4 linked regions of the Homo sapiens genome follow. The protein of the gene in region 1 purifies or fractionates together with the protein of each later gene. This does not show direct contact. Each region holds a gene or a part of one and is shown on either strand. Other genes may lie near its edges.

Region 1 (4,170 bases):
TCACTATGTTGGCCAGGCTGGTCTTGAACACCTGACCTCAGGTGATCCACCCGCCTTGGCCTCCCAAAGTGCTGGGATTACAGACGTGAGCCACCACACCCGGCCATGAAGAGAATTAATTCTTACTGTATTAGTACTAAGTATTAACCAAGACCATTTGGAGATCAATATCACAAAAAAAGGTCCACTGTAGTGAGAAAATCGTTGGTGCTGGACCTCATTTAACTTAGAGTAGCTTTTGTTCAATGTCTCCATGAAAAGCTATCACATTTTTTAAAAACCATACACTATCTCAAAATATCATGGACCACAACTCTAATCCCAAAAGAATTTAAGCAGAAAAAGATGAAAATTGTTAGTGCGTATGCCATCTATCCTTGACGTTTCTCCACATGAAAGCCATCTATCTTCCAAAAAGGCAGCTTGCACATGAAGACTCATGGGTATTCAAAAACAGTTGTTTTCAAAACCATCTTTTCAATGAGCAAGGATTTGTCAATTATTATCCTCCTGAGGAGTTCTTTCTTAGCCATAAAGATAACTTTTATCAATTAAGCACTAACACTATACCCTTTACAAAACCAGAAAGGAAAAAATATTTACTGAAAACAATACAAAGATTCACACTGTAAGTCCCAATTATTTATTCAAAACCCTGAGGGCCAGTTGTGTTTAGAATTTGTAATTGTTTTGGATTTTTAGAAGGGGAGTACTTTGCATGTATCCTGCAAATACCACCCAATAACAAAACATAATAGTATTTCTGCAGCAAAAAATATAAACAGTCACACTAAATGAGACACACAAAAACCATAAGTAGCCTCAGGACAGATTAAGACAGGTTTGCCGCCAAACAGGTTACTAAAAAAATGTACATTTTCAAGTAACTCCCGGTATTTGGGAAATTAAGAAAGAGGACTGTGGCCCTATTTCAAGGCACCAATATTATTCCTGCATTTGGTGAGCCTTTACATACATACCACCGGCCGGGCGTGGTGGCTCATGCCTGTAATCCCAGTACTTTGGGAGGCCGAGGCGGGTGGATCACCTGAGGTCAGGAGTTCGAAACCACCCTGACCAACATGGTGAAATCCCGTCTCTATTAAACATACAAAAATTAGCTGGGCGTCATGGAATCCGCCTGTAATCCCAGCTACTAGAGAGACTGAGGCAGGAGAATCGCTTGAACCCGGGAGGCGGAGGTTGCAGTGAGCCAACATCACGCCATCGCACTCCGACCTGGGCAACAAGAGCAAAACCTCGTCTCAAAAACAAACAAACAAAAAAACACATACATACCACCCACCAGCTGAGGTCATTTTAGGAGACATTAAAAAGTGTACATTTTCAACCTGAAAAGCCGCTGTGAAGAGAAAGATTTCTATTGATATGAGCAAGAATACCACCCAGTTTTCCAAGTATCTTAAGGGTAACCTGCCAGGAAATGAGCAAGAATCACAGAAAACGGCTGAAATGAAGGGGGAATCTTAAAAGTCACCATTATAGTCTAATTACCGAGATATTTAAAGCCTTGACGTGAGACTTATTCCTTCCTGGCTTGATCCTGGAACTCAGCTCTTCTCTGTGGCTTTTACCAATATATCTCCCATTGTACTCCAGGGCAGACTTAACTGCTCCTTCACTTCCTTCCAGCAACACCTTGTATACACCTCCAAGCTGAGAACTTACTAGATCCTTCTAAGATTATTCATGTCTGTTTTCTCCTATCGGGCTGTGACACCCTTAAGCCAGGGATCACATCTAATTAATTTCTGAATCCACAGCAACCACCGCGCAGAAAGTAGTCAATAGACATTTGTTGAATTGAGTTAGATTTGTTCTATATTCTGGATCTGCCACTGCCTGAGTGGCTTGCGGCACTCCATGGGCCTCCGTTAGTTCAGCTGTAAGAAGAAACGACGGGGCCATTCCTGGGTGATCTTCTAAGTGCCTTCTAATTCTAGAAGTTTTTAGTTTTTACCAACTGCATTTTCTAGGCGCTGTCGAACTAGCAAATAAGGAAAGAGGCAACTGGCCTGAGAGGGATCCCCTGCGAGTGGGCGCTGGCTTCCCACCACCCAGTCTTCTGCTTTGTTGTGCCCCTCACCTGGAAGGTAACGAGGCCTCCAAAACCCCGCCTCTGCACCTATCAGCGTCCCCGCTCGGAAAGGCGGGGATTCGGGCCACCCAATCGAGGTCCGCCTAAGCCGCGCCCCCACAGGACAGACTGCCAACCTCGACCAATCAGGAGAGGAGGGATCGTTCTCTCCAGCCAGTGGGAGAGCGCTGGGGCCGGGGCCAGACACCGCCCCCGCACGCGGGGAGGTGACCGTTGAGCCCAAACAGGCGGCGTCACCAGCCAATCAATATGCTTCCAGACGTTTCAGCGACCAATTAATAAGAACGCCTCCGATCCAGGCAAGCAGAGGGCGGGAATAGTTGCAAGCATAGGCCGAGGCCAGGGTCGGGCCCACATTTTTCTGTTGGGTATGGACAGAAGAGAGGGTAGCTGAACAAGGTTCGGGGGAGCGGAAAGTTGGGACCCAAGCACTGTGAGGCGTGGCCAACTGCGTCACGGTGCTCAATCGACTGTCCTTAGAAACCCGCCATCCCTCCTCTCCCGTTTCTCACCTTCCTTCGCGGCATTGCCGGCGGCTGCGGCCCGACGGTTCCGATTCGGGCAGCGGCGGCAGCAGCAGGAACGGTGGCTCCGGCGGGCTCCGTGGCGGCCTCTGTATCAGTCCCAATCCTGCGGACGATCCCTAGTGCCTCCTGCCTCTCAGCGTCTGGAGCGTTCTGCGCAGGCGCCGCGGGCTGAAGCGCTTTTTCCTTCACTTCCGGCTGGGTCTCGCGTCACCTGACGTTACGGGCCAGAGAGGGTGCTGGGAAGTTCGATCCTTTTGGTGAAGCTAGTGGGCGCCATTTTGAAGTTGGGCAGAAAGTGACTCCAGTGGTGGAACCCGGAGCCAACCATTTTTAGTTACGTGAGTGGCTCTGTTTGTGGGCGTGGGTAGCCATTCTTGTTTGGGGCAGAAGCCTGACAGTTGATGTAAACGGTTCTCATCTTTACCTTGGGCAAAATTTCGTTTTAATTTCTAGAGTCGAGGAAGGAAACCCCCCAGAATCCATCAGGTTGCTGAGATTAGATTTAACCCCTTCGTAGCCTGATTGTTTAAAGGACGTTTCCGTTTATTATATAAACTCAAAGTTGCGGAGGGATGTTTTGTAAAAGAAACTTTGTATTTTAAGAAACATCGTGGTCTCGAAGGGGTGGGAATGGGGAATTGAAAAAGGAACTAACGGATAGCGTCCGCCATCAAGTTTCCTGTCTGGTAGAGGAGACATTGTCCTTGCCCTTAGCTAACAGCAAGTGAGTTAGTTGATGTCGCGGGGAGGAGGCAAAACCATTCTCCAGAAGCTGCAGGTCAAATAATTCCCAATTTAGCTCTGTGGCGAGTGCCCACTTCCTAACCGCACTGTGTTTGGGTTTGAGACCACTGGGGGCCCTGGGGTGAAAAATGTGATTTGAAAGTGGGGAATGCAGTACCAGAGTCAGAAAAGCTTTGAACCCCATTTAGCTCAAATGACCTCTGGCATCCAGATGCTTGAGCAGAGAGTTACGAGGCGGAGGAAGAGGAAGGAATGTTTTTAGTGAAGTTGAAGCCCCCAAAAGAATGGACATTTAAATAATAATGAGAGGGCCTAGGAAGGAGAAGTTGGTCACAGATACTAGGCTGAAAGAAGAGCCTTAAGAAAAGGCTGGAAAGTGGAGAGCAGGCGTTGAGGATTTAACCTCTCCGGAGGAAAGGCCTTGAGAGGACCAAGTCTTGACCAATTGCGACTGGGTGGAACCCAGGCACGCTCAGTCATTAAGTTAGGATCCCGAACCCCAATTTCAAACTGAGGCCCCGTTAAGATGGAGATTTCCCCCAGGAGCAGGGCTAAAGAACAAAGAAGCAGAAGGTAAATATCTGATTGATGTGCTAAGTAAAGAACTCTAAAGATTTAAAGTTCCAGACCTTTAGCCAGCACTCTCCTTGGGGATGTCCTGGGCCAGTGTTGACACAGGCAGCTTTTAGTATTTAATACTTAGCTTTTAGTGCTTAGTATAAATACCTTTGATAACCTACTTAGGTTGAACTGCACGTAAGAACTTATTTGAAAATGGTT
Region 2 (5,277 bases), on another chromosome or scaffold:
CATGTAGTCTAGAATATTGTCTGTGTGTTTCAAATACAGATTTTTAAATATTACAACAATGGGTACCGTAGTGGTGTTTGTATGATTCCTTAGAGCAATGGCTAAACTTATATAACCAGAGCTGCCTGTGGAGATCCCCATCTGACCAGCCCAGCCAACAAAACTAATTTGTGACTGATGAAAATTGTGAATTCATAGTTATTATTTTTCTTACTGATTTTGAGAAACATCAGAAGAATGTGTGCATAAAAAATGAGGTGGAGAGCTTAAAACATTGTCCCAGGCCATATGCCCTGCTCTTTAAGGAGAAAGAAGTTTAAATCATTAGCTGTCTTACACTCTGTAAGACAGCTCATTGTCTATGGAGCTACATTTATTAGAGAGTTAATTACTCTGTTCTCCATTCTCTCAGAGGAAGGTAAAAGAAAGGGTAAGATTTATTTGAGAGAGAAAAGGAAAGCCCATAAGCTTCTCTGTATTTTGAGTTAGAAGATGTGACTGCAATTGATTCCCACTATACTCAACCTCTCCACTAGGATTTATTTATTTAAAGCCTCAAATCACAAGTGAACATCCTAGAAAGGAATTTCACTGAAAAAAAGTTGTAGGTCTAACAGCATGAAAATGCCACTCCTTGTAAAAAGTTAAGTCTTGCTACTTGCTTTAAACAACTTACTGTAGAAAGATTCAGAGATTTGTCTACGTAGAGCCGCTTGATTAGTTTCAGTGAGTAAAAGGAACTAAGTTTGTTTACATCCGATGTTACTGTTTGAAATCCAAAGGGTACATCTTTGACATTTTCAAAATGAAGAACCTGTTAAGAGAAAAATCCGTTACCCAAAAAGCATTGCCTCTGAGTAGTGCTGTACTGAAGTGGACACGTGATAATGACCAACGTCCTTGGGCATACAGACTCCTCCTGCCTAGTTCCCGTAAAGTAAGGCTCCTCAACCTCAGCACTATTGACATTCAGGCTGGATGAGTCTTTGTGGGGCTGTCCTGGGCACTGCAGGATGCTTAGCAGCATCGCTGACCTACTAGATGCCAGTGGCATCCTCCTCCTATTTGTGAGAACCCAGAATGTCTCCAGACATTGCCAGATTATCCCAGAGTGGGAAGGGGAGGACAAATTGTCCCCACTGAGAAACACTACCATAAAGGTACTCTTCCAAATCAACCATCGAGAACATTTGTCCTTTCTTCAAAGTGATGCCCTTAATACTCACACAGAAGGATTTCCAAACTTGGAGAACGATGAAGCTGGGTTATAATTTCTATCCAATTCAAAGACCAGAGAGAGAGATTGATACAAGAGACACCATCATCAGGCAGGAATCAGATTTCAGGACAAGTGCCTCTAGCCAGAGTCTGTCTAGTCCCTCTGGGTGCTTTAGCAAATGCCAGGTAAATAGATGTGTCATTTCTGATGGGCAGCTACAATAAATGGTGGGCTGCCCTGGGCTGGCTAGAGTCAGATGGCCCTGCCTGTGAATCCCAGCCTTCACCACCTCTTCTCCAACTCTTCAGAGAATCTTCTCCAACTCTTCAGAGCCTCCTTTCCTCTCCGTAAAATGGGCTGAAAATACCTGCTTTCCTGAGTTGTTAATGAGGATTACTTATATGTAAAACACGTAAAATATTATATGGATTCAAACTGTTAATTATTCTTGTAATAATATTGTAAGCCATTTAAAACCAGGATACTATCATTTGGAGGGCTTAAATCATTGTATTTTTTTCCTTTTTTTTTTTTATTGTTCCAACCAATAGTCCAGCATCTTTTCTGCCTTGCAACACCACAACATGTAATGTCAGCATAAGATGACACCCTCCTCGCTCCATAACTCATAATGGCCATGCTGTGATTCCACAACCCAGATAACGAACGCTGCCAAACCGGCACATTGTCCCAATGAATTACATAGCCTCAGCATTGCAGGGTCAAATGCTGGTCCCAGACAGTGCATAACTCTCATGCCTAAAGATGGATGAAGGAGACCAGAAAATTTAAGAGCCCAGGTAACTACTGCTGGGGAACCAGTTGCATATACTGAGAAGAGCTTGAGGAATTACTGAGGAACAGACCCACTACCCGGAAGTTCTCTTTCGCTGGCCTTTCTCTAATGGTAGATGAGAAATGAGGAATGGGAGATTGGGTAGGGATAGTGGAGTTGCGCAGTTCAGAGATGTGGCTTGATGTCAAGATACATCTCCTCTTCACAGGAGTGAAGCTGCTTCAAGTCCCAAGTGTAAATTCTTCATCCTTACCTAAATAACTCTTATGGGCCATACTTTCTGGACACATATGAATACAAGAAGGTGTTGCCTTTTTAAATGCTTATGAGCTAATAGAAAAGAAATTCTATTGAACCTAGAATGATTAGCATAAGAGTAATAATGAAATAGAATTAGAAGAACATTCACCTATTATGTAAAAGTACATGAGGACTTAAAACGGAACAATCAGGAAAATTGTCTCATTTGAAGGTCTAAGAACTTTACAAAGCTAGATAATCAACCATAGCCAGAAAGAAACCCTAAAACGATACAGATGCTGCTTGATTTATGATGAGGTTACATCTCAATAAAACCATTGTAAATTGAAAATATTATAAGTCAGAATGAAAAAGCTGTGATTACCCAGCAGATCTCCAGGTTCTCCATCACAGCCTGGTGCCTGTCCCAGATGTGAGTTGCATTACCTACAAGCGAGCTTTCACATTTAAAAATAAATTAAGATGCCTGTAATCCCAGCATTTTGGGAGGCCGAGGCAGGCGGATCACCTGAAGTCAGGAGTTCGAGACCAGCCTGGCCACATGGTGAAACCCTGTCTCTACTAAAAATACAAAAATTTGCCTGGCGTTGTGGCACGCGCCTGTCATCCCAGCTACTCGGCAGGCTGAGGCACAACAATCGCTTGAACCTGGAGGCTGCAGTGAGCCAACATCGCACCACTGCACTCCAGCATGGGTGACAGAGTGGGACCCTGTCTCACAAAAAAAAAAAAAAAAAAAAAAGATTAAGAGAGTCCTGGAATGGCACAGTTCTGAATCTTGACCAATTCTGGCCACAAAGTCTACATTCCTTTTTTCCGTAGGCACTGCCTATGGGTTCTAATAACTGTATTCCCACTTAAAGTAGAAACAAGGTTTTGGGGCTTACCTGTCCAATTTCATTTGCAGTGTCACCTTTAGCACCCACTTGAGCAAGTGACAGAGAGGTGGAGAGACAGATTGGAGAGAAGAGGACATTGCCCAGTGGCTCCTTTTCACATAGTTGTTTGAACAGATCAACGGCAAAAGCCGAATTTGCTAGTTGCAGGGCATCCATTGCGGGCCTGGAAGCAAGGACAAGGGAGCAGTTAGTTTCTAAAGCATCTTTAACGTCTTCTCAACTGCATTCTGCCAACACTATAAGAATTCTATTTAAACAAAGTAATTGATCTCAGAAGAAACAAGGAACTTTCTGTAAATTCAAAAGTAAGATCAGTTGTGAAGAAACTTCCAGGCAAATGTCTGAAGGCATGTGAGGTCCTCTGTGTGTCCAGCTCTGCCTAGACTCTGCAGTCTTGGGCCTGCTCAGCCACAGTGGCCATTGTCGGGAGCCCAGTGGTCACATCTCTTCTCCAGCATATGTCAGAAAAGTTGACAGCACTAATCAACATCAGTTGGTTTTATTTATCACATATTGTTTCCATTAGGATTTCAGTTAAACTACAAAGTTAAAACTTTTATAAAACAAAAACAGTCGAATTGCAGCAGTTTTGCATTGTTCAGTTTAATATTTAGTAAGTGTAATGGGTTGAATTGTGTCCCCCAAAAAGATATGTTAAGTCCTAATCCCCATTACCTGTGAATGTGACCTTACGTGGAAACAGGGTATGTCCTATTTCTTAACTAATATATAATTAGTTAAGATGAAGTTACATTGGAGTTAGGTGAGCCCTAATCCGATATGACTGGTGTCCTTAAAGGAATAAGAGGAGAGACACAGAAACAGACATACACAGAGGGAAGATGTGAAGACACAAATGTCTTCACCTGTGTGAAGGGCATGCCGTATGGCAATGGAGGCAGAGATTGGAGGGATGCTTCCACAAGCCAAAGAATGCTAAGAACTGCTGGCAACACCAGAAACCAAGAGAAAGTCATGGAACATTCTCCCCTGGAGCCTTTTGAGACAGCATGACCCTGCCGACATCGTCATTTCAAAGTACTGGCCTCCAAGCCTGTGGGTGAATAAAGCTTCTGTTGCTTTAAGCTGCCTGGTTTGTGGTGCTTTGTGAGAAGTGCTAGAAAACCCTTAAAGTAACTAATGCCTTTGCAGGACACCCAGCACATAACAATACTTAATAAACAGCAGCGGTTATTGTTTGCGTTTATAATACGCATCTGTGTGTAAGACACTACCCAGAGTGTTACAAGGATCAGTGGACCTCCTCCTTCTCTAAGCTCATAGTCTCTTTGGGCAGATATGCAGACAAATAACTAGAATACAGAGCTGCCCAAGACATGTGAGTGGTATAATAAGTAATATGGGAGTTAAAGAAAAGAGGGAACAGTTTCAAAATATGTAGCCTGGTAAAGTGGATATAGCAGCAACTAGGCATCTTGTCACATCTCAGAGCTCTTTAATTTTAACACAGCAACTTCCAAAGTGTTGTGTCTTGACTCCTGGCAGTCCCTAACACCCTTTCAGGAGGTCCATGAGGTTAAAACTATTCTCATGATAATACTAAGACATTATCATTCTCAATCTCTAATAGACAGCGGAGTTTTCCAGAGGCTATATGACATCCCTTCTATTAAGCCAAATATTAAGGAGATTTGCAAAAATGAAAAACAATATCACTCTTCTCATTACATTTTTTCACTTTAGAAAATGTTTTTTAATATATATATTATTCATATTAGTATTTAATTATTATATTATTTTAATAAATTAGTAAATGAACATTTCAAAATGTGTCTGGTTTTCATTTCTAGTTTGGTAAATAGTGATAGATATAATCTACATTTTTTTTAAAGAAACAGTTCTTTGGGGTCCTCGGTAATTTTTAAGAGTGTAACAGGGTCCTCAGATTTAAAAAGCTTCACTGTTCTAATAAAGGTCTACCTACCTATTTAGTCTGGTAGTTACTGATCGACTCCAAAGACAATTAGGTAAATTCAGGCAGTCAGGGCTTCCCTTTCTGGGAGCAGAGCTGAACTACATGAACTCCTGAGGTTCTGCCTAAGCCAGGACAGCATGTTTCTAAGGGAAATGAATTGATATTA
Region 3 (5,277 bases), on another chromosome or scaffold:
AATACAAATCAAAACTCCAATTGGATACCACTTTCCACCACCTAGGATGGCCATAATCCAAGAGATGAACAATAACAAATGGCAACGAGGATGGGGAGAAAGTGGAACCGTCATACACTACTAGGAATGTATGATGGTGCTTTTGCTTTAGAAAACAGTATGGCAATTCCTTAAGCATAGAGTTATCATGTGACCTATCAATTCCACTCCTAGGTATATACTCAAAAGAAATGAATACATGTACCTTACACACTTGTACACAGACGTTCACAGCAGCATTATTCACAATAGCCAAAAATTGAAAACAACCCAAATGTCCAACTGATTAATCAATAAATAAAATGTATATCCATACAACTGGATATTATTTAGCAACCAAAAGGAATGAAGTCTTGACTCATGCTAAATCATGCTTGCATCCTGCAAACATTATGCAAAATGAAAAATCCAGACACAAAAGACTATATGTTGTATTATTTCATTTATATGAAATATCCAAAATAGACTTCTGCTGAAGCTATTCATAATTACTTTATATTTGGTTTTGCTAAATGGCTGGAATGTAATTTGTGGTCATATTGCTACCGTGAGGGTAGACCTTACCTGATTAAGATGTCTACACAGGAAAGAGCAGAGCCAAGATATAAAGAAAGACATATTTATAAAGGCATATTTTGAACACACAAATCCATCTGGATACCAAGTAACCCCATTTAAGTGAATTTAAAAAGTCCCAGTTTACATTGGGTCTCTTGTCACATGAAACAGAAAGAGTCCTAACTAATGTGGTTGGTTAAAAAAACAATTATTTGTTTTTCACTTCCAAGGTAATTAATATATTGTAAATTCAGGAAAGATGTGCTTCAGGATTTTTTTGACCACAATAGTGATGTCTTTTTGTGAATATTCATTCTTCAGTAGAATAACTGGCCAGCAGAAAACACCAAACTCTGTCTAGCTTGTATATACCAATTAAACATGAAATAACTTGGATTATATGATCATAATTTTTATATTCAAATTTCATTTAAAAATACATTACTTTTTAGTGGTAATAGTAGTCCTTCCACCAGTGGAGGGTTGGTTATGAGAGGAATATATTTCTTGCCGCAACTTGGAGAGTTCCTTACAAATAAAAGATAATATAATCATTTGATGGAAAGTAGAAACATGAGATAATAAATATATTTAATCATTTAGAAGGGTTACTAACAATGATTATACCCCCTCCCTTTTACCCCTTTTTAGCCTTGACGTAATAATGTTCTAATCCCACTTGTTGAATATCACCTAGTGTTGCTTCACAGTACCTAATAAGTTATATTATATGCCGGTGCAGGAACCTGCAACTGATACAGGATATCTAAATTTGGAGGATAACTTGAGATTGAATGGGCGTGGTTCTCAGGATGAGGATGTGAAAGTTTTTGCTCTGAAAAGCCTGAAAAGTATATCCATAGAAGAAAAGTATTGAAACTTCAATATATAAGCAGATATAGTTTCTTAAGAGAGAGTTTATCAATGAATGTTACTACAAGCACCATTTGCTCCATAACAGCAATACAATATTACCCATAATTTTTGACAATTCCTTCAGTACCTATTGAATGCCAGGTCATGGGCTACATGCTACAGATACAAGGAGGAATATAACACATGCTTTAATGAAGCAGCTCATAATGTAGTAAGGAGGTCACAGTCTACTGGGAATTTCACTGCTAATGAAATATAAAATCAATGTCTTAAAAATATTAAATGTATAACAGCACTTATTTTTTGCTTCAATTGTAACTTTCATTTGAATTGTGTCTCCTGAAATATGTATATTCTACTTCCTCACTTGCACCTACATTTTATTTCATTAAATAAAGTGACTCTTGGATATGTGTCCTTTTCTAGTCCATGGGAAGTATTTATCCTACAGTACTACAGTACTAAGTTGTATTACTTTTCTCCATCCCCACCCCTTCCTTTTATACCTCTGACTGACGCTTTATGAGGGAATCCTTCTCTTCCAGCAAGCTTGTCAGTTCATGAAGCTTAAATTGGAAGTCACTACAACTTCCTTCTCTCTTTGAAACATCTTTATGGTACTGGTTTAATTGGGACTAAGGATTTAAAAAGAAATAAATATTATTATAATCTTCATATAGAAAATGTGTAACTGAGTTCCAGGGAGGTTAAGTGACACAAACTCACACAGTTATGAAATGAAAGTAAAATACCAATAGTCATAAACGTTCGAAGAATTTCATGAGTATGTAATATGAAATGAAATGCCAATTACAAATTTCTCCTTTTTTTAAGGTGTCTTTGCTATGTAGGACTAAACATTATCTACGTAACAGTCTTAGGCCACAAAATTTAAAGTAAAGCTAAGAAAACAGGCACTTTAGAGTCCTTGAAATAATAATTAAGGAAATAGCAATAACAAATTACTACTATTATATTCTGATTTTCAGTTCACAAAATATTCCTCCTGCATGAATTATCTCAGTTCTCACAGCAGTCCCATGAAATAAGCATTATTATAATCTTCATTTACAAAACAGATAATGGGCTCCAGAGAGGTTAAATGACACAGTCACGCAGTAACATAGCTGCAACTCCAAAACAGGTCTTCTGACTACAAATCTTGTCCATTTCCCTCTTTACCTCATATGTGTGTAGCTTAGGTAGAAGTGCTGTTAGTAATGTTGGAATGGAAAAGAAATCAGTGGAGGAAATCTGCTAGAAGTATTGGTAGGTTTGGAAAACAAATTATATTTTGTTTCATTTTGATTTTTGGTAAAAATTATACAGTGATGTTTGGAGAGACAAATTTGTGATTATTTTGTTTATTAAAATATTTAAGTATATTTTACTACCTTTAGGAATCAGTAAAATAAGGGTTAGATTAAGTAAATTCAACCTAGAATTACAAGTTAAGGCAATATATACTTATAAATATCACCTTAATTTTGATGTCAACTATAGGTACCTAAAACTTAACACTGTTTTCCTCCTCATGCTTGACAAAGTCCTTGCTATTCATCATCCCTCGAAATTAAGTGAGAATTTTTACAAATCTAACTATGGCTCTGTTGAGTAATTTCATATATTGCTTTTGCCTACATAAGCATGCTTTAGGCAAGATCATGAAGAGTCCTCCATCTATCCCAAAAAATAAATTAATAAAAACCAAAACCAAACCACTGAAATGAATATCTTCTTTTACTTTCCTAGAAGAAATTAAGCTAAATTAGAAAATCATTTAACAGTTATATTTTAGATACAGTAATGTATTTAAAACAAATGAATACATGACATATTTCTAAAACTCTACCTTCAGCTAATTTTTTCTGGTAGCTTTAAACTTGAAGCCATCATTATCTTGCTAGAAAGTTTGTGCTGACCTGTGTATTTATGCAATGTAGGATCAACATACCCTCAGTCTGCAGATCTCTCTATCTTTCTCCATTCTCAAGTTTTTTACCATCTCCGTGTAGTGGTTGCCAATCTCATCCATTTTAGCCTGCAACATTGGGCCTGTGCAAGTCTCAGAAACCTACAGAAGGCAAAATAACTATCTGTAATTGGATTGTTTTGAAGAAAATACATGTTATGTTACAAGGATTGTTATTAGATGAAAACCACATGATTAAATAAGACATTGAAATAATGAAAGTGATTTTCAGGAACTGCATTATAAAGCTCAAATGTCAGTGATTAAGATCTAACAGTATGTGAGGGAAAGCAGTCCATATGTTTTCTAAATGCTAGGATTACAATGATGTAACTAAGGTAATACTGTATATTTAAAAGGAAGTTTTAATACCTGCATTCTAAGGTTTTGATTCTCTTGCTCTAAATTACGTTTACAATATTCCAGTTCTTTTAGTCTGTATTCCATGTCTGATAGTGTATGTCGAAGAGAGAGATTGTTTTCTTCCAATGCCTGGCATTTTGAACTTGAGTCTTGAAGTCCTTGCTGTAAAGAAGACACAAGTACATAAGACAAATGCATTTTGTTTTTGGTGAGGGAGTGTTCTTTTTATTGATTCATTCAATTGAATCAAGTAAATATTTTCCTATGCCCAGTTTTCTTATACTCTGGGTCTTAGATGGTACATTAAGTCACCCATGTAAGATATTATAGTGTTGCCTCTAGTCTCACTCATCTATTTTGTGAGAGAGGGAATCATGACTAGATGAATTTATAATGTCTCAATTTAACAATCAGACTCTTGCTACTCTGTGACAATACTGTACCCTGCTTTCTAGTAGGCACAGAAACGACCATATGCCTGATTATTTACATGACAACTAGTAACTGAGCAAGAATTTGGGACAGCCATAGGAGTAAAGATCAGGAAGAGGGTAATCCTTAGAGACTACTTACAATTTCCTAGGAATTCTCTCTGCTCAGACATCCAGAGAATTCATCTAGAGTTTTTTCAGTCATTTATTTATTGCACAAACATGTATTAAGGTCTACAACAGCTTTTCTCATTGACATGTTAGTACATTAAATAAATGCATGAACCTAGATTTTTAGTATTTCTACAATTCTGGTCACCCAACAAGACAAATAATTGTGTCCCATATGTACTTTATATCTAAAATAGATAAGATTATCTGTTTTTCTGAGAGGGCTTTCAGCCATTAGAAATACCCAAAGCCACTCAATTCTCATATGAACAAATTTTTCCATCATATTTAATTCTGTCTTGATTATATCTCATAACTCCAATGTGCCAGTAATTGTGCATATGAAAAGCTATCAATGTAGATTAACACCAATAAAAGCATCAGTTTACCTGCTGCTGGTGATTATTTGCTCTCACTGATGCCAAGAGTTCTTCGTACTCTTTTAATTGAGTGTCTTTGAATGATAAATCTTTCTCAAGTCTCATCTTGTCATTTTCCAGTGACTAGAAGCATAAATTATTTATTATGATTCAGAATTGCAAAAACTTAACAGTCACATAATACAAAGACTTGCTTACCTTGGAAGATTTAAATAAGCACTTGTTTCATTTGTACTTGCTTAATAAAGCAGAATTCTTAAAAGTTAAGAAAATACGGGATAGGAAATGATTGAAACTTCTAAAACCTTCATTGAAAGAGACATTTTGATGGACTAACTATACATGAAATGAAGCACAACCCTCTGAAATGTTTTAATGTTTTCCTCCAATCTACAAAGAGTCCTCGTTAATCCCAGCGAGTGGTAAATTTTTAAATTAGAGTCTAAATATGTTCATCATAACCCAGAAACAACAAAACTACTCCAAA
Region 4 (5,277 bases), on another chromosome or scaffold:
CCGTCTCAAAAAAAAAAAAAAAAAAAAACTGTGCAGCTGATTGTACTTAAACAGATACTATTTTACAAACATATCTCTGAGTTATTTTTAAATTTCTGAATTTTTGAAGAATAAATCTGCTAAGACAAAATTAATTCCTAACCAGATTTACAATTAATCCACCTCAATGACTTGTTAGTAACAAATTTTTATTTCTAGGCCACTGCTCCTGGTACATTTGGAGTCACAAACAAATGGTATAAACAATGATGTCAGAAATGTACGGCATGGGCCGGGCATGGTGGCTGACGCCTGTAATCCTAGCACTTTGGGAGGCGGAGGTGGGCGGATCACCTGAGGTCAGGAGTTCGAGAACACAACTGGCCAACATGGTGAAACCCCATTTCTATTAAAAATACAAAAATTAGGTAGGTATGGTGGCACACGCCTGTAATCGCAGACAGCAGGAGGGGAGAGGCAGTAGAATTGCTTCAACCTGGAAGGCGGAGGTTGCAGTGAGCTGAAACTGGGCCACCGCACTCCAGCCTAAGCAACAGAGCAAGACTCCATCTCAAAAAAAAAAAAGAAAAGAAATGCATGTCATAAAAAATGTTTAAATTATTAAATATAACAATTACTGAGATCAATCCATTTCACACTTGATAATAGCTACATTTTCCACGTCACTGTATCCTCAATATTTTATCTTTTGCCTTCAGAAGATTTTTTGTTTTTTTTGTTTTTCCAAAGTGAACAATCATTCTGTCAAGCAGTCCACATAGCCCTGAATTTAATAGCATGGACAACTATTTATTGCCTTTTTATACAGTATCAACGCAACAGAGTAATTGAAATTGAAATTTCCAAGCTTATATTGGTTAACAATTTTCTTATAAAATACCACCATTCTAACATATAAAATGTGCAACTATTCTACTATAAAGGTCATTTCCAAATAGCTAAATCAAAACTTCATCACTCTTAACTTTCAGTAACTTAAAAACATATCCCTGGCCGGGCACGGTGGCTCACGCCTATAATCCCAGCACTCTGGGAGGCCGAGGCAGGCGGATCATGAGGTCAGGAGTTCGAGACCAGCCTGGCCAACCTGGTGAAACCCCATCTCTACTAAAAATATAAAAATTAGCCGGGCATGGTGGCATGCGCCTATAATCCCAGCTTACTCGGGAGGCTGAGGCAGGAGAATCGCTTGAACCCAGGAGGTGGAGGTTGCACCACTGCACTCCAGCCTGGGCAACAAAGCAAGACTCCATCTCTCAAAAAAAAAAAAAAAATCCCCATTTTAATCAGTATCTCTACATCGAAAATTTAAATTCTAAATTCCTGTCAAAGCTCTACTTCCTCTATAATTTAAAATATAAATTCCAATAAAACAAAATAATTTGGACTCTACTAAGAGTTGACCAAATTGAGATGTAACTTAGAGTAGAAGGCAAGAGATTTATCATTGGATCTTTCTGCTCCAGGTTACCCAGCTGGGAGTAACCTGAACAATAACATTAGTTGACAATACCTACTCTTCCCTGTCCAACTGAACGCTTTAGCAAATTATAATTCTGTTCCAAAATACTATGCCACCAAATAACAATACTTTTAATGATCTGGCTGATTACCATGAAAGAGAATATTTTTCTGGGCTAGTAATACAGAACACAAACTATATATATTCAAGTAAATTATGTCAGTGTGTAAAAATGAACTCAGAAGTTTGAAATCAAGGTGAAAACTATTCTTGAAAGGAAATTGAATCTTTCCAAGACTCACTATATAAAGATAATTTTTTAAATGGACCATCACAGTCTCAAATAATTGCCTTGCCCACTAAACATATTATTATTTCTGAGTCATGATACTTAATTGTTATGAAAAAATAATAATGTAAAAAAATTACAGTTCATAAACTAAAAAAGGCTTTCAAAAAATTTATTTTGTATCTCTATTCTGTCTGCTTTAATCCCCTCACAGGACCTAAATCTTAAATCCACTGTTCATGGCAGGCATTCAAATGTTTGCTAAATAAATAATGAATAACTGAAGTAAATGGAACAAATTACCTTACAGTAATATCTATATTTCAAAAAGAAATTTACAAAGAGGAAGATGCTATTTAAGCCAGTTACACACTCTTCTCCTCACCTATAATCCCATGATTCAAGGAAAACAGTATTTCTGTCCCAAATTAAAGCACTCTGGTATAGCAATACAACTGATCCCTACCTTGCCTATCAGAAAATGTTAGTGACAACTGAAATGAAAATTAGTTAGCACAGAAATTATCTTTAAGGGAAAAAAATGGCATGTAGGTGAAACTTTTTTTTAATGGACCTCAGATATACAAAACTAGATTACTCCTAATCTTTGGTTCCTAACACATTCTTATCACTGGTCCAAAGTGAATTTTCAAATCTGTTCTGCAAAAAAAGAAAAATGGACACAATGAAGACGGGCGGGAATTTGTCCTTTAACAATTAGGAAATGTGCTATGAAGTTAACACCAAGGACATTCACGATTCTGTACTTGAGTGCAGTGATAGCCATCATACATTACTGCTCCTAAGAGGTGGTCAGTATGGCTATTACAAAGACTCTGGAGCCAGACTGCCCAAATTCAAATCCCAGCTCTGCCACCTAATATTTGTGTGACTTCAGCAAGTTACTGAAATCTCTTTTATGCCTCAGTTTCTTCACCTGTAAAATAACAGTAGCTATTTCACTGCTGGTACTGTTATGTTATTAATAACTAACTAACCTAACAGTAGCTAGTTATGTTAGAGGATTAAATGAGTTAATATATATACAGCATTAAAATAACGCCTGGCACATAGTAAATAAACACTTTAATAAATAAACTCACCATTAACTACCACACTCTAAAGTTAGCTCAAAAATTTCCCTTATAACATGGGTAAAAACTTTTTTTTTTTTTTTTTTTTGAGATGGAGTCTTGCTCTGTTGCCCAGGCTGGAGTGCAGTGGCACAATCTAGGCTCGCTACAACCTCCGCCTCCTGGGTTCAAGCGATTATCCTGCCTCAGCCTACCGAGTAGCTGGGATTACAGGCACCCACCATCATGCCGGGCTGATTTTTGTATTCTGTAGAGATGGGGTTTCACCATATTGGCCAGGCTGGTCCTGAACTCCTGACCTCAGGTGATCCACCCCCCCCTCGGCATCCCAAAGTGCTGGGATTACAGGCCTGAGCCACCAGGCCTGGCCTAAAAACTTTTAATCACAGTATCCCATGGATTCTCCTCAGTACTTATCAATGTGAAAAGAACACACTAAAGTTCCAATGTCTTCACAAAAACTCCTCTTAAACGTATTCCAACACAGTTGATCTCCCAAAAGGATCAAAACCACTCAGCTGCCGAAAATCTAACATACAGTTCCTTCCAAAGGTTAATATCACCAAAAAAAAACAAAAAGTTAGAATTGATACCAGAAAAAGTAAAGAGGAACTTGCTCGGGTTACTCCACGCAGTCTTTGAATTTCATCTTCACCTTACAGTTGGCCAGGTCAATAGAAATACCTGCATTAGCATCCCAGAGAAGACAGAACTGTTTCTGTTCCAAGCAGAGTGCCTGGCCCACAGTAGGTGCTCAATGACTATATGCTGAACCAATTAATTCCTAAAAGTGAAACTACTCCTGACCTATACACCTTCCTTTCTCCATCACTGTCAAATAAACTCTGGATAATTCTTTTCTTTTTTTGAGAACATCTAGGTTCGTAACAGCAAACTATCAATTCTGCATAGCAACTGACTGCGTAGTTCGAAGGAGAGGAAAGAAAATAGTTAAAATACAATAAAAGGAGCAGACATAATCTGTTCAAAGGAATAATCTCTCATCCTAGAGTTCACTGTATTACGATTTTTAATGTAAACTTTTCATATCTTTGGGGGAAGTCACACAGGAAATTCACTACTGAAAATAAGACTCCATTTAAAAATATAGAACAGAGCTCACCAACTCTAATTGAATAGATACTATCATGAAATTAGTTTTCCAATGAGATTAGTACATATACAAGTCTACCTGAAGAAACAAACTCTATTTTCCAACATGTCTAAATTTAGTTACTTCAGTTAACACTATAGGCAGGGTGGCTCATGCCTGTAATGCCAGCACTTTGGGAGGCCAAGGTGGGCGGATCACCTGAGGTTGGGAGTTCGAGATGAGCCTGACCAACAGGGAGAAACCCCGTCTCTACTAAAAATACAAAATTAGCCAGGCATGGTGGTCAGCATGCCTGTAATCCCAGCTACATGGGAGGCTGAGAAGGAAGAATTGCTTGAACCTGGGCAGCGGAGGCTGCAGTAAGCCAAGATCGTGCCACTGCACTCCAGCCTGGGCAACAAGAGCGAAATTCCATCTCAAAAAAAAAAAAAAAACAAAAAAACACTATATATGAAAGCTATGTAAGCAAATGGGCATTTCTTTTTCATTTTTTCAATTATTAAATCACTTTTGTTTTTCTTGCTTTATTTCTCCAAAATCAAATGTGGCCAGGTGCGGTGGATCATTCCTATAATCTTGGCACTTTGAGAGACCGAGGTGGGCAGGTCGCTTGAGGTCAGGAGTTGAGACCAGCCTAGCCAACATGGTGAAACCCTGTCTCTACTAAAAATACAAAAAAAAAAAAAAAAAAGTAGCCACACGTGGTGGCGCAAACCTATAATCCCAGCTACTCAGGAGGTTGAGGCAGAAGAATCGCTTGAACCCGGGAGGCGAAGGTTGCAGTGAGCTGAGATCACACCACTGCACTCCAGTCAAAGCAAAACAGCACATCTCTACTGAATTAAACTTTTCTTAATGCAAAGGTGCTATGAAATGGTCTCAACAAAGGTCCTTAGCTCAGCTGCAAAATAAGGACTTGGATTAGACGGTTCTCAGGGTCCCTTCCAAAAGTAAAATCTCAGGGTTCTAGGACTTGGATTTGTCTTGCACTGTACTATATTTACTACCTTTTAAAAATATGCTCAAATGACATTTTTATATAGCTAATATTTTTTAAAATTATCTATTGATAATTCAAGCAAGTGTAATTACAATAAAAGCAAACAACAGGCCAGGCACGGTGGCTCAAGCCTGTAATCCCAACACTTTGGGAGGCAGAGGCGGGTGGATCACTCGAGGTCAGGAGTTCGAGACCAGCCTGGCCAACAAGGTGAAACCCCGTCTCTACTAAAAATACAAAAATTAGCCGGGCGTGGTGGTGCATGTCTGTAATCCCAGCTACTTGGGAGGCTGAGGCAAGAGAATCGCTTGAACCTGG

The links.
Region 2: the proteins of KAT7 (region 1) and SERPINB5 purify together in Homo sapiens (affinity purification with mass spectrometry, with the first as the bait; one large-scale study listed by BioGRID). This does not show direct contact.
Region 3: the proteins of KAT7 (region 1) and POF1B purify together in Homo sapiens (affinity purification with mass spectrometry, with the first as the bait; one large-scale study listed by BioGRID). This does not show direct contact.
Region 4: the proteins of KAT7 (region 1) and KAT6A purify together in Homo sapiens (affinity purification with mass spectrometry, with the first as the bait; one large-scale study listed by BioGRID). This does not show direct contact.

Annotation. Positions count from the first base shown.
Region 1 is NC_000017.11:49,787,311-49,791,480, reverse strand, and holds the start of KAT7 (histone acetyltransferase KAT7), read right to left. Parts: upstream 2,801-4,170; 5' UTR 2,647-2,800; coding exon 2,632-2,646; intron 2,419-2,631; exon of another isoform or gene 2,371-2,418; intron 1-2,370. UniProt on the Homo sapiens protein: Catalytic subunit of histone acetyltransferase HBO1 complexes, which specifically mediate acetylation of histone H3 at 'Lys-14' (H3K14ac), thereby regulating various processes, such as gene transcription, protein ubiquitination, immune regulation, stem cell pluripotent and self-renewal maintenance and embryonic development.
Region 2 is NC_000018.10:63,482,483-63,487,759, reverse strand, and holds part of SERPINB5 (serpin B5), read right to left. Parts: intron 3,339-5,277; 5' UTR 3,332-3,338; coding exon 3,164-3,331; intron 815-3,163; coding exon 677-814; intron 1-676. UniProt on the Homo sapiens protein: Tumor suppressor. It blocks the growth, invasion, and metastatic properties of mammary tumors.
Region 3 is NC_000023.11:85,302,364-85,307,640, forward strand, and holds part of POF1B (protein POF1B), read right to left. Parts: intron 4,914-5,277; coding exon 4,800-4,913; intron 3,971-4,799; coding exon 3,818-3,970; intron 3,548-3,817; coding exon 3,428-3,547; intron 2,109-3,427; coding exon 1,980-2,108; intron 1,126-1,979; coding exon 1,043-1,125; intron 1-1,042. UniProt on the Homo sapiens protein: Plays a key role in the organization of epithelial monolayers by regulating the actin cytoskeleton. May be involved in ovary development.
Region 4 is NC_000008.11:42,041,186-42,046,462, forward strand, and holds part of KAT6A (histone acetyltransferase KAT6A), read right to left. Parts: intron 2,391-5,277; exon of another isoform or gene 2,319-2,390; intron 1-2,318. UniProt on the Homo sapiens protein: Histone acetyltransferase that acetylates lysine residues in histone H3 and histone H4 (in vitro). Component of the MOZ/MORF complex which has a histone H3 acetyltransferase activity. May act as a transcriptional coactivator for RUNX1 and RUNX2.